2 separate regions of the Homo sapiens genome follow, and region 1 is linked to region 2. Evidence: fine-mapped expression QTL. A gene starts in region 2. The other region holds a variant in brackets. All regions are shown on one strand. Distances are between the middles of the regions. Region 1 overlaps SIK2 (salt inducible kinase 2). Region 2 holds the start of SIK2 (salt inducible kinase 2).

Region 1 (5,385 bases), 21 kb after region 2:
GCTTTCACCTAAAATATCTGTTTATTTTTACTGTGTGGAACCAGAGCACTGTAGGTATCTAAATCTTTTTTGTTCTTAAAGTCCAAAATTGTTTTTTAAGCAGCTTTATTGAAGAATAATTCATATGTAGTAAATTACACGTATTTAATGCGTACAATTTAATGTTTTGATACACGTTTGTGAAACAGTCACCACAGTCAAAATATCCATCACTTCCAGAAGTTTCTTTGTGCCCTCTTTGTAACTCTTTTGCCCCATCTGACACCCAAAAAACCACTGACCTGTTTTTTGTCATTATGGATCAGTTTGTATCTTTTGGAGTTTTATATAAATGGAATTATACAGGATATACTCAAATGTAATCATACAGGATATATTCTTTTTTTGGTCTAGCTTCTTTCCTTTACTATAATTATTTTGGGATTCATCCCATTTTATTGTATATATCAACATATAATTTCTTTTTATTGCAAGTAGTATTATATTATATGAATATACCCCAGTTTGCTTATTCATTCATCTATCTATTGATAGACATTTGGGTTGGTTTCAGTTTTTGGCTATTATACATAAGTTACTATGTACATTCGTATACAAGTCTACACAGTCTACCTTCAGGTAATACTTACCACTTCGCATATAATATAAGAACCTTGGCTGGGCACAGTGGCTCACACCTGTAATCCCAGCACTTTTAGGAGGTCAAGGTGGGTGGATCACCTGAGGTCAGGAGTTCAAGACCAGCCTGGCCAACATGGTGAAACCCCTCCCTACTAAAAATACAAAAATTAGCTAGGTGTGGTAGTGCATGCCTGTAATCCCAGCTACTAGGCAGGCTGAGGCAGGAGAGTCACTTGAACTCGGAGGCGGAGGCTGCAGTGAGCCACGACCGCACCACTGTACTTTAGCCTGGGCAACAGAGTGAGATTTCATCTCAATTAAAAAAAAAAAACCTTACATCAGTGTACTTCTCTTTTGCCCCTCCTGGCCTTTATGTTCTTGTTGTCATATTTTACTTAAACGTATTTTATAAAACATAATACAGTGCTATTTTTCTTTAAACAATTATCTTTTAAAGAGATTTCCACATTTTTTGAAAATTATCTATCAGTGTAGCTACCTTTTTCTTTAAACAATTATCTTTTCAAGAGATTTCCATATTTTTTGAAAATTGCATCTATTTATCAATGCAGCTACCATTTCTGCATTCATATGTATGTATATATTTTTATCTAATGTCATTTTTCTTTTGTCTGAAGGATTTTCTTTTCTTTTTTTTTTTTTTTTTTTTTTTTTTGAGGCAGAGTCTTGCTCTGTCGCCCAGGCTGGAGTGCAGTGGCACGATCTCAGCTCACTGCAAGCTCCGCCTCCCAGGTTCACGCCATTCTCCTGCCTCAGCCTCCCAAATAACTGGTCCTACAGGCACCCACCACCACACCCGGCTAATTTTTTGTATTTTAGTAGAGACGGGGTTTCACCGTGTTAGCCAGGATGGTCTCGATCACCTGACATCGTGATCCGCCCGCCTCAGCCTCCCAAAGTGCTGGGATTACAGGCGTGAGCCACCGCACCCGGCGTCTGAAGGATTTTCTTTAGTGTTTCTTGTAGCACAGATCTGCTGGTGATGAAATATTTCAGCTTTTATATGTCTAAAGTAGTCTTTATTTTTGTCTTTGTTTTTGAAAGATATTTGTACTAGGTATAGAATTCTAAATGGACTTTTTTTCTTTCAGTACTTTAAATATGTTGCTTCACTGTCTTCCCATTTGCACTGTTTCTGACAAAAAAACCACTGTTATCTTTTTCTTTATTCCTGTGTATATAATGTGCCTTTTTTCTCTGGCTGCTTTTAAGGCTTTCTATTTACCACTGGTTTCAACAATTTCATTATGATGAGCCTTTGTGTGGTTTTCTTCATGATTCTTATGTTTGGTGTTCATTGAGCTTTTTGGATCTGTGACTATACTCTTTTCATCAAATTTGGATATTTTTCAGCCATTATTTTCTAACTAATTTTTCTCTTCCACCCCCTCTCTTCTCCTTCAGATATTCCAGTCAAATGTATATTAAACTGTTTGAAATTGCCCCACAGCTCACTGATGCTCTTTTCCATTTTTAAAAAATTCCTTTTTTTCTATTTCATGTTGAGTAGTTGCTATTTCTGTCTTTAAATTCACGAATCTTTTCTTCTGCCATTAATCCCATCCAGTGTATTTGTCATCTCAGACATTGTAGTATTCTTTTCTATAAACTTGACTAGGACTGTTTTTTAATGCCTTCCATGTCTTTACTGATCTTTCTGAACATCTAGAATCCAGTTATGATAATTTTTAATGTCCATGTCTGCTGATTTCCAGCATCTCTGTCAGTTCTAGGTTGGTTTTGATTGGTTGATGTTTCTCCTCAGTTTTGGTTACATTTTCCTATTTCATTACATGTCTGGTAGTCTTTGATTGGATGCTAGACATTGCCAATTTTACCTTGAGCACCACATATTTTTGTGTTACTTTAGGTTTTCTTGAACTTTGTTCTGGGATGCAGTTAAGCCTACTTGGAAACAGTTTGATCCATTTGGGTCTTGCCTTCATAATTGAAACAGTGCTCAGTCTGGGTCTAGTTACTTCCCACTTCTGAGTACTCTACTCAATGCCCCATGAATGCTGAGGTTTTTTGGCCTGACAAGTAGGAACAGGCACCATTCCTGGCTTTGTGTAAGCACCAGGCAGTGTTCTCTCTCAGCCTCTCAGATGGTTTTTTCTCTGGCCTCTGGTGGTTTTCCCTCACACGTGAGCCAATCAGCACTCTCCTGAGTGCTCAAGGGACGGATCCCTCTGCAGACCTTTGGACTTCTTTCTGTGTGTAGCTCACTCTTATCTGGGACTCTCAGCATTGTCTACTCAACTCAAAGACATTGCTGGGCCACACCTGGGTTTCCCCTCCCTGTGCTGTGGCGTAGAGATTCTCTCAAGGCATTAGTTGGAACATTCATGGTCTCGCCTCATTTGTCACCTGTTGCTCAGGGTTCACTTTCCTTTGCCTGATGTCCAGTGTCTTATAAACCATTCTCTCATGTATTTTGTATTTTTGTTGTTGAAGATGGGAAGGTTGTTTCAGGCTGGAGGACAAATCTATCTTAGCCAAAAGCAGAATTATTTAGTCCTTTCAAATGTGTTATTAATTTAAGGTATTTTAAAGAGAAAGAACCATATGCACTTCTATAGTTTTGAAAAATACACTATTTGCAGT[A/T]GGATTCTAAATAAATAGTTCTGACTAAACTCATTGTATTTCAGAAAAGTTGTCTGTTTCCCTCTTTTGCTTAATTTTTTCTTTTATATGCTACTACTTAATAAGCTTATTTTAATTCTTAAAATATTTGTTTTAGCTAGCAGCATCTTGACTGATGCTATAATAGGCTGTTATGGGCTTTGAAGCTAAGCAAATCTGATTTACAATGCCGGCTATACCATATTAATTGTTAACATTACTTTGGGCAGGTTTCTTTCCTTTTCTTCCCTTTTTCCTCTTTATTCATTTTATTTTTCTTGCCTTTCTTTCCTATTTCTTACATTCACTTATTCATTCATTTATTCAGTCTTTCAAGAAATCCTTATTGAAAACCAATTACTTGTCACACACTGTTATGTGGTAAGAAAACTGCAATGAAGAAAATAGACAAAAATCTCTACTCTTTTACATTCTAGTTTGGGAGAGAGAAACAAAATAGCTGAATTATGTAGTAGATTAGATAGTGATGAGTGCTATGTAAATAATAAAGCAAGGCTGGTTGGTTGGGAGGCATGGGAGTTGATTGCAAAATTAAATAGAGTGGTCAGAGGCTGGTTGGTTGGGAGGCATGGGAGTTGATTGCAACATTAAATAGAGTGGTCAGAGAAGGCCTCGCTGGCATTTGAGCACAGACTTTAAAGCACAGTCATGTCGATATGGTAGAACAGAGATTACCCAGGGAGAGGGAAGAATAAATGCAAATCCCTGAGGCAGCAGTGTGCTTGGTGTGTCCAAGGGGTAACAGGGAGGCCAGTATGGCTCAAGAGGAGCAAGCAAGAGAGAAGAGCAAGGAGGAAGAACAGTAGAAGAGGAGGTCAGAGGGTAAATGAGAGGCAGGAGTAGGGCAGATTTGGGGGCATTGTGTAGGCCATTAGAAGGATTTTGACTCTTACATGAATAAAATTAGGGAACCATTTTCGGCTGGATTTCAGCACAGAAGTGACTGCATCTAATGTATCATTTTAAAAGCATCACTCTGGCTGCTGTGTTGAGAATGGGAAAGGGTGGAGACAGGGAAACCAGGTAGGAAGCTGTTGGAGTAGTTCCAGTGAGGGGTGTTGACAGCCCAGACCGGGGAGTAGCAGTACAGGTAGTCCTAAGTGGTCAAACTCAGAATATATTTTGAAGTACAATCAGTAGGACTTCTCGACAGGTGGAGACTACCTAAGTAATAGGTATAATTATGGAAGAGGCCAAGATCTGATCCCTGAGGCATTTAAACATTAAAAGATTTAGAAAAGAGGAGAAACTAGCAGAAGAGACAGAGGAGGAAGAAAACCAAGAGAATGTGGTATCCTAGAAACCAAGTGACCAAAGTATTCTCAGAAGGATCAAGTGAACATCTGTGACAAATGATGCCGATAGATCAAAAATGATGAGGAATGACAGTTGACCATTGTATACTGCAGTTTGGTAAGAGCAGTTTTGGTGGAGTGACTGGGCCAAAAGCTAGATTGAAGGGGCTTACAGAGCAAATGAGAGAAGAAAAATGGAGAGAGCAAAATAGACAACCCTTTCAAGGAGTTCTGCTGCAAAAAGGGAAAAAAGAAATGAGGTAGTAGGTAGAGGCAATGAGTCAAGAGAAGGATTTTTAAGCCTTTGCCCATTGGAACATTTTTAAAGCTTTGGACTGTAGTTTTACAAGTAAAGTAGAAATAGCTGTTACATGTTAGGCATCATTTCTATGAAAATAGGATAGTCTAAATTGTTCTTTCTTGCTAAGATCTTTGAAACAAATTTGGATTACATTGTTTTATACACATTGAGACATAATTTGGGGATTTTTAAATGTATAAGGTTTATATTTAAAGTAAAATCTCTAGGGTAAATGGTCAATTGGAGTTCTGGAAAGAAGAATCTGATGTCCACAGAAAAGTTGGACAGTGAATGCTATTATCTTATTTTCCACTCTTGGGTACAGTTAATTTCTTGACCATTGAAGATAATGAGTAATAGAATTAATTTAAAAAGATCATGAAATCTTTGGATAGTCTTCACTAGTTTGGAAGGGAAGAAGCTGAATTTAAAGGAGATGTGGAGATCATTTAGTTCAATTTGTTTTTATTTGCCTTGACTTTGTCATACAGCTTGAAGCCCAGC
Region 2 (5,385 bases):
ACCTCGGCCTGCCAAAGTGTTGGGATTACAGGTGTGAGCCACCACGCCCGGCCAAAAATTTTATACCTAATTGTTTAGTGTGTATCTCCTAATAACGGATACTCTCTCTTATAATCACAGTACAATTATAAAATTCAAGAAGTTTAACACTGAAACAGTATCTTATCTAATATGTAATCCATATTCAAATTTCAGTAGTTGTTCTGAAATATTCCTTTATAGCATGTTTTTTCAAGACCACATGTTGCCTTTAGTGCCATGCCTTTTTAAATCCCTTAAATCTAGAATGGTTCCTCAGCCTTTCTTTGACTTTCATGACACTGATGTTTTTTAAGGATACAGGTCAGTTGTTGAGTAGAATGTTTCTTAGTTTGCATCTTTCTGATGTTTCTAGATCATAATATGCATTTTTGACAGGAATACTACTTAAGAGATATTGTAACCTCAGTGCCTCACATCTGGAGGCACATCATGTCATTTTATCACATAATTGGTGACATTAACTTTGATCATTTGGTTAGGGTAGTGTCGGTCAGATTTCTCCACTGTAGAGGTACCCTTGTTAACCCTTTATCATGAATAAGAAATCCAAAGACTGTGCAAATATCTTGTTCCCCAGCCAAATTTTATTCAATGATTTTAACATCTATTGATAATTGTCTGAATCCATTATTACTGTAATGGCTGCCAAATGATTTGCTAATTGTCATTTCTTCTAACATATATTAGTTGGCATTCCACCGTCATTTCACTTCTCCCCTCTTTATTTTTCTGTTTAAAAGTAAGTATGCTCTACGATTCTTTTAAAAAATTCAATGTGTTAGAATCAATTTCTATATTTATTTATTTATTTATTTATTTACTGAGACAGAGTCTCGCTCTGTCGCCCAGGCTGGAGTGCAGTGGCACGATCTCGGCTCACTGCAACCTCTGCTTCCCTGGTTCAAGCAATTCTCCCTGCCTCAGCCTCCCGAGTAGCTGGGATTATAGGCGCCCACTACCACGCCCGGCTAATTTTTGCATTTTTAGTAGAGATGGGGTTTCACACAGGCTAGTCTTGAACTCCTGACCTCAGGTGATCCACCCGCCTCAGCCTCCCAAAGTGCTGGGATTACAGGCGTAAGCCACTAAGCCCGGCCCATTATTTATTCCTGATACTCAAACTGTCTCAGATTTGGTAAGGGGGGAGCACCTTCGAGCCATCTGCTTTCTTTTGACATATCTTCCTTGACATAGCCAAGAAATCTCCTTGCTTTAAGGAGCAGGATCTTTCAAGGGCATTTTATACTTTCCCTGTCTCTGCCCTCGAATGAGCCATCTCGCCACGGAGTCTGGCTCCTTTAGGTGGAGAATGGTATTTAGAAACCAAGATATAAAGGCATATGATACATCTCAAAATAGTGAGGTGTCACTGTCCCTGTTTCCTTGAGTCACATTTGGAAGCGTGGTGTGATTTATAATCCTACCTCGACTATTGCCTGTGTGACCTAGGCAATTCCCTTTATTCCTTGAGGTCTTCTTCGTCCTTTGGGGAAAAAAATTGGATTAGAGAAATATTTCTAAACTTTTTCAGAGTCACCAACGCGTTTGGGAATCTGACAGAAGCTACGGGTCCATCTCCCCAGAGACATGCTCACATAAGCAAAAACTGGCCTGTGTTTTAGGGGGTTCCAAACTCTGAAGCTCACATGAGGCTCCAAATCTCTGGATTAAGTGATCTCCAAGATCTCTTCAGCGCTGACATTGACATTCTGTGAGTCTATAAGCGACTGCACTGCTGTCAGAATGACTCCTCGGAGACATCAAAACGTGGAGGGTTTTATTATATATAGCAACGAGAAGAGAAAAGGACACAAAGAAAGGAGCCTGTGAGCAACGCATTGCTCAGCCACAGTTCTTTGCCGGTGCCAAATTTAGGACGCGCTGTACTTGTAGGTGAGAGGTTTTGGCGGGAAGGACCCCGGGTGGGCGGAGAACGCCGGGGCGGGGAAGGAGATCGCAGGCCGCATCCAGGTCTCTGCACCCCTCCGCACGGTCCGCCAGGGCTCGCTCTTGCCCTTCGCCTGGAAGGCCGAGGAACGGAGCGGGCCGAGCAGCGACCCCGCCCCTGGCAGCGGTGAGGCGGAGGGGCGAGGGGAGGGCGTCTGAGCCCGGAAGGAGCGCGCCGGCCAGGCTCGCGCCCCTCCCCGTGCGCCGTCCCCCACTCTCCAGCAGCCGACGTCGGCGGTGCTTCGGTCGCCATGGTGACCAATCCAGGCTCGGGCCCGCCCCCGCCCCCCTGCCCCGGCCCCCTGACGTCGGCGCACGTCAGCGGCGGCGCGCGCCTGGCTGGGCCCTGGGGAGCGGGAGGGAAGGAGCGAAGGAGCGAAGGAGCAAGCGGAGCGGCCGTCGCCCAAGCCAAGCCGCGCTGCCAACCCTCCCGCCCGCCCGCGCTCCTGTCCGCCGTGTCTAGCAGCGGGGCCCAGCATGGTCATGGCGGATGGCCCGAGGCACTTGCAGCGCGGGCCGGTCCGGGTGGGGTTCTACGACATCGAGGGCACGCTGGGCAAGGGCAACTTCGCTGTGGTGAAGCTGGGGCGGCACCGGATCACCAAGACGGAGGTGCGGCCCGGGGCTCGGCGGGAGCGTCCGAGGCGAGGGTTCGGGAGAGGAGCTGCTTACCGAGAGGGGCGGCCGCAGTGGTGGGACCGGGGAGACCCGAGAGGCCGCCTCACTGGCGGAGGCGAGCGGGCCTGGGACTGTGAGGACCCAGGAGGTGCAGGGGGTCGGTGAGCAGCGAAGGGATCGGGCCCGGGCACCCGGACCCGAGTGTCGTCCGACTGGAAACGCAACCAGCCGGGGCTTTGCTTTCCCCTACGCCACCCCCGGTGGCCACCCGGAATTTCGCCCAGAGCCCCCCACCCGGGCCGTGACCTGGTCTGTGGCCTCCGCTCCGGAGCCCAAGTTCCGCGTCTTCCCTGCTTTCGGCTGGGGGTGGGGTGGGAGGGGAAGTCTCGGTGTTCCCAGGCTGCGCCGTGAGAGACGTCGCCGGCCCGAGGAGGGGACCGCCTGCGCTTGGGCTCCGCGGATGGGGGATCGTGCGGCCCCCGTGACCCCGGCGCCCCTCCCCTGCCCGACGAGGAAGGGCCCCATGGCTGGGAATACCCCCACGGCCACTGTCCATCTCCTCTCCTTCCTTTTGGCCCAGGGTGTCTCTGATTTGGTGTCTGGCTAGCTTGATCTCTTGCCTGGGGCATTTCCATTTAATGCCCCAGACAATAGAACTGGTTAAAATGGTCATCTCTGCATTTGCACGGTGGGTGGATTGGTCTTCTACTTGTCTAGGGTTGTCACTGTACCAGGTGTGCATTCTGGCTGTAATACGCATTCTTTAAACCATATCAGATTCTGCCTCTACTCATAAAGCCCTCAACTGCTTCCTGACGGTGAATCCTGCACCCTCTTCATTGCACATTCTAATGCACCGCACATACTCTCTCACAAGTCTCTGTTCTTACCTAACCCGCCCCCCTTCCTTCCACTGCCTCAAGCTGCTCTCCTCAGGGTCTCTATTTTAAGACGTGCAAATTAAATACCTTAGAAGAACGGTAGAAACAAAACCATTCTTTAGAATAAAACCTAGTGGTTTTGACGTACTCTACTCTGCCTTATTGTAGTTCCTCCTGGAGTTTCATCCTTTTCCTGTTTGTTTGCCCTCCAGTTTTGGTCCTATTCTGCTTTTTCCCTTGTTAGTACGAATGTACTGGAGTTTGAGTGTAGAATAAAGTAGGACTTCTTTTCAGAATGACTTATGTAAGGCGAAGGGCACTTGCAAACGTGAGTGATTTTTGGAGTTGCAGTTGTACTTAGAAGTTTTGCTTAATCCCGTTTCCAAAAGGAAGGGGTATATGTCATTCTGTCTTCTTTACTTTTTGCCTTCCCCTGCTGGTCCTGAACCAGTCCAAATCTGACTTATCTTTTAGAATCAGGACCAAGGTCAGATATTTTCTTCTCACAGATTTACCAGTTAGCAATTTAGATTGTTTGTAATGATAATGATAACTTGACTATAGTGATATTGTTAAATCTTAATCTGATCCCAGCATTTTTTAAAATGAAGAAATTGGTTCCATTCCTCTGAAGAGCCATGGCCTATGCCATGCCATTTCCCTTTAAGTTACATAAAAGAAGGCATTTTAAATGCATGTTTTATGAGTCCTTGCTTAATGACTTTCTAAAAACAAACAAATTGTGAGTTATAGAGAGGTTCTACAAAACTTTTGAACTGTAGTATATCGTGTGGTTGAATTCCAAATCCATCAGTTCTTAATATTTTTTTCTCATCAGCTCTTACTGGGATTAATAGCAAGATTTAATTAAGTCATCTATTATTTATCAGGTCAAATTTAGTTAATACAGTAAGAGCTGCTTAAGTGGAGTGATTGACACTTTGAGGTTGACAATTCAAATGGTGTCCGTTTTAAACTAATATATCTTAAAGAGCTAGGGGGCACTATGGAGTAATACCGTGGTTTGGCTATCAGAGTGAGATCAATGCATTCATTTGTAATTGGAACAAGCACCGGTCAGATCGTGAAAGAGGACTTAGATCCTAAATCGTGTGTGTAGTATATATGTGTAAAATGATTTACGTTAAAAGCTAAATGTTTAGTCCGCAGAACCCATTTCCCTGTGCTTTTCTAAAGAAGCTGTTATTAACATATAAAAAGAAATAGTGTGAATTTGAGATGGGTGAGGGTATCTGTGGTAATTTGGTGGGTGTGATTGGAGATATTAAGGTAGAGAGGGATAAGTGAAATGTCAAAGCAATCTTTGAACAGAAAAGTTCTCTGGATCTCTAGGTTGTAAAGTTGCTCTGAATTTTTTTTTTTTTTTTTTGAGACGGAGCCTCGCTCTTGTTGCCCAGGCTGGCTGGAGTGCAGTGGTGCGATCTCGGCTCACTGCAACCTCTGCCTCCTGGGTTCGAGCGATTCTCCTGCCTCACCCTCCCAAGTAGCTGGGATTACAGGCGCTCACCACCATGCCCGGCTAATTTGTGTGTTTTTAGTAGAGACGGGGTTTCACAGTGTTGGCCAGGCTGGTTTCGAACTCCTGACCTCAAGTGATCCACACGCCTTGGCCCCACAAAGTGCTGGGATTACAGGCGTGAGCCACCGCGCCTGGCCCAATTGTTTCTTAAAGTATTCCATGGGAGTAACAATTCCATTGTTAATGATGTTTTTTACAGCAGTTATTTATCCTTATTCGTTCATTCACTGGATAAATGTTTGTGTGTTTTTGATAAATACAACTACCTTAAAAACTATAAGATGTTTAATTAAAACTTTTGTTTTAAATTCAGTTTTCATGGCAGAACATACTACAGTAGTTATAGTGGAACAATGA

The links. PIP is the estimated chance that this variant, and not a neighbour inherited with it, causes the effect.
Region 1: its variant is the best candidate, but not a certain one, in a credible set for the expression of SIK2 in whole blood (INTERVAL, PIP 0.72).

The regions. Positions count from the first base shown.
Region 1 is chr11:111,620,977-111,626,361 of GRCh38, forward strand. The region is part of intron 3 of SIK2 (salt inducible kinase 2); the gene reads left to right. Among named protein-coding and RNA genes, the nearest start is that of SIK2, 21 kb to the left of the region's middle. The variant A/T (reference allele first, on the strand shown) is at 3,247.
Region 2 is chr11:111,600,098-111,605,482 of GRCh38, forward strand. SIK2 (salt inducible kinase 2) reads left to right here and starts at 2,352. Exons shown (of 15, transcript NM_015191.3): 1 at 2,352-2,601. The coding sequence starts at 2,467. RefSeq lists an enhancer at 1,738-1,877 and silencers at 1,968-2,407, 2,958-3,117.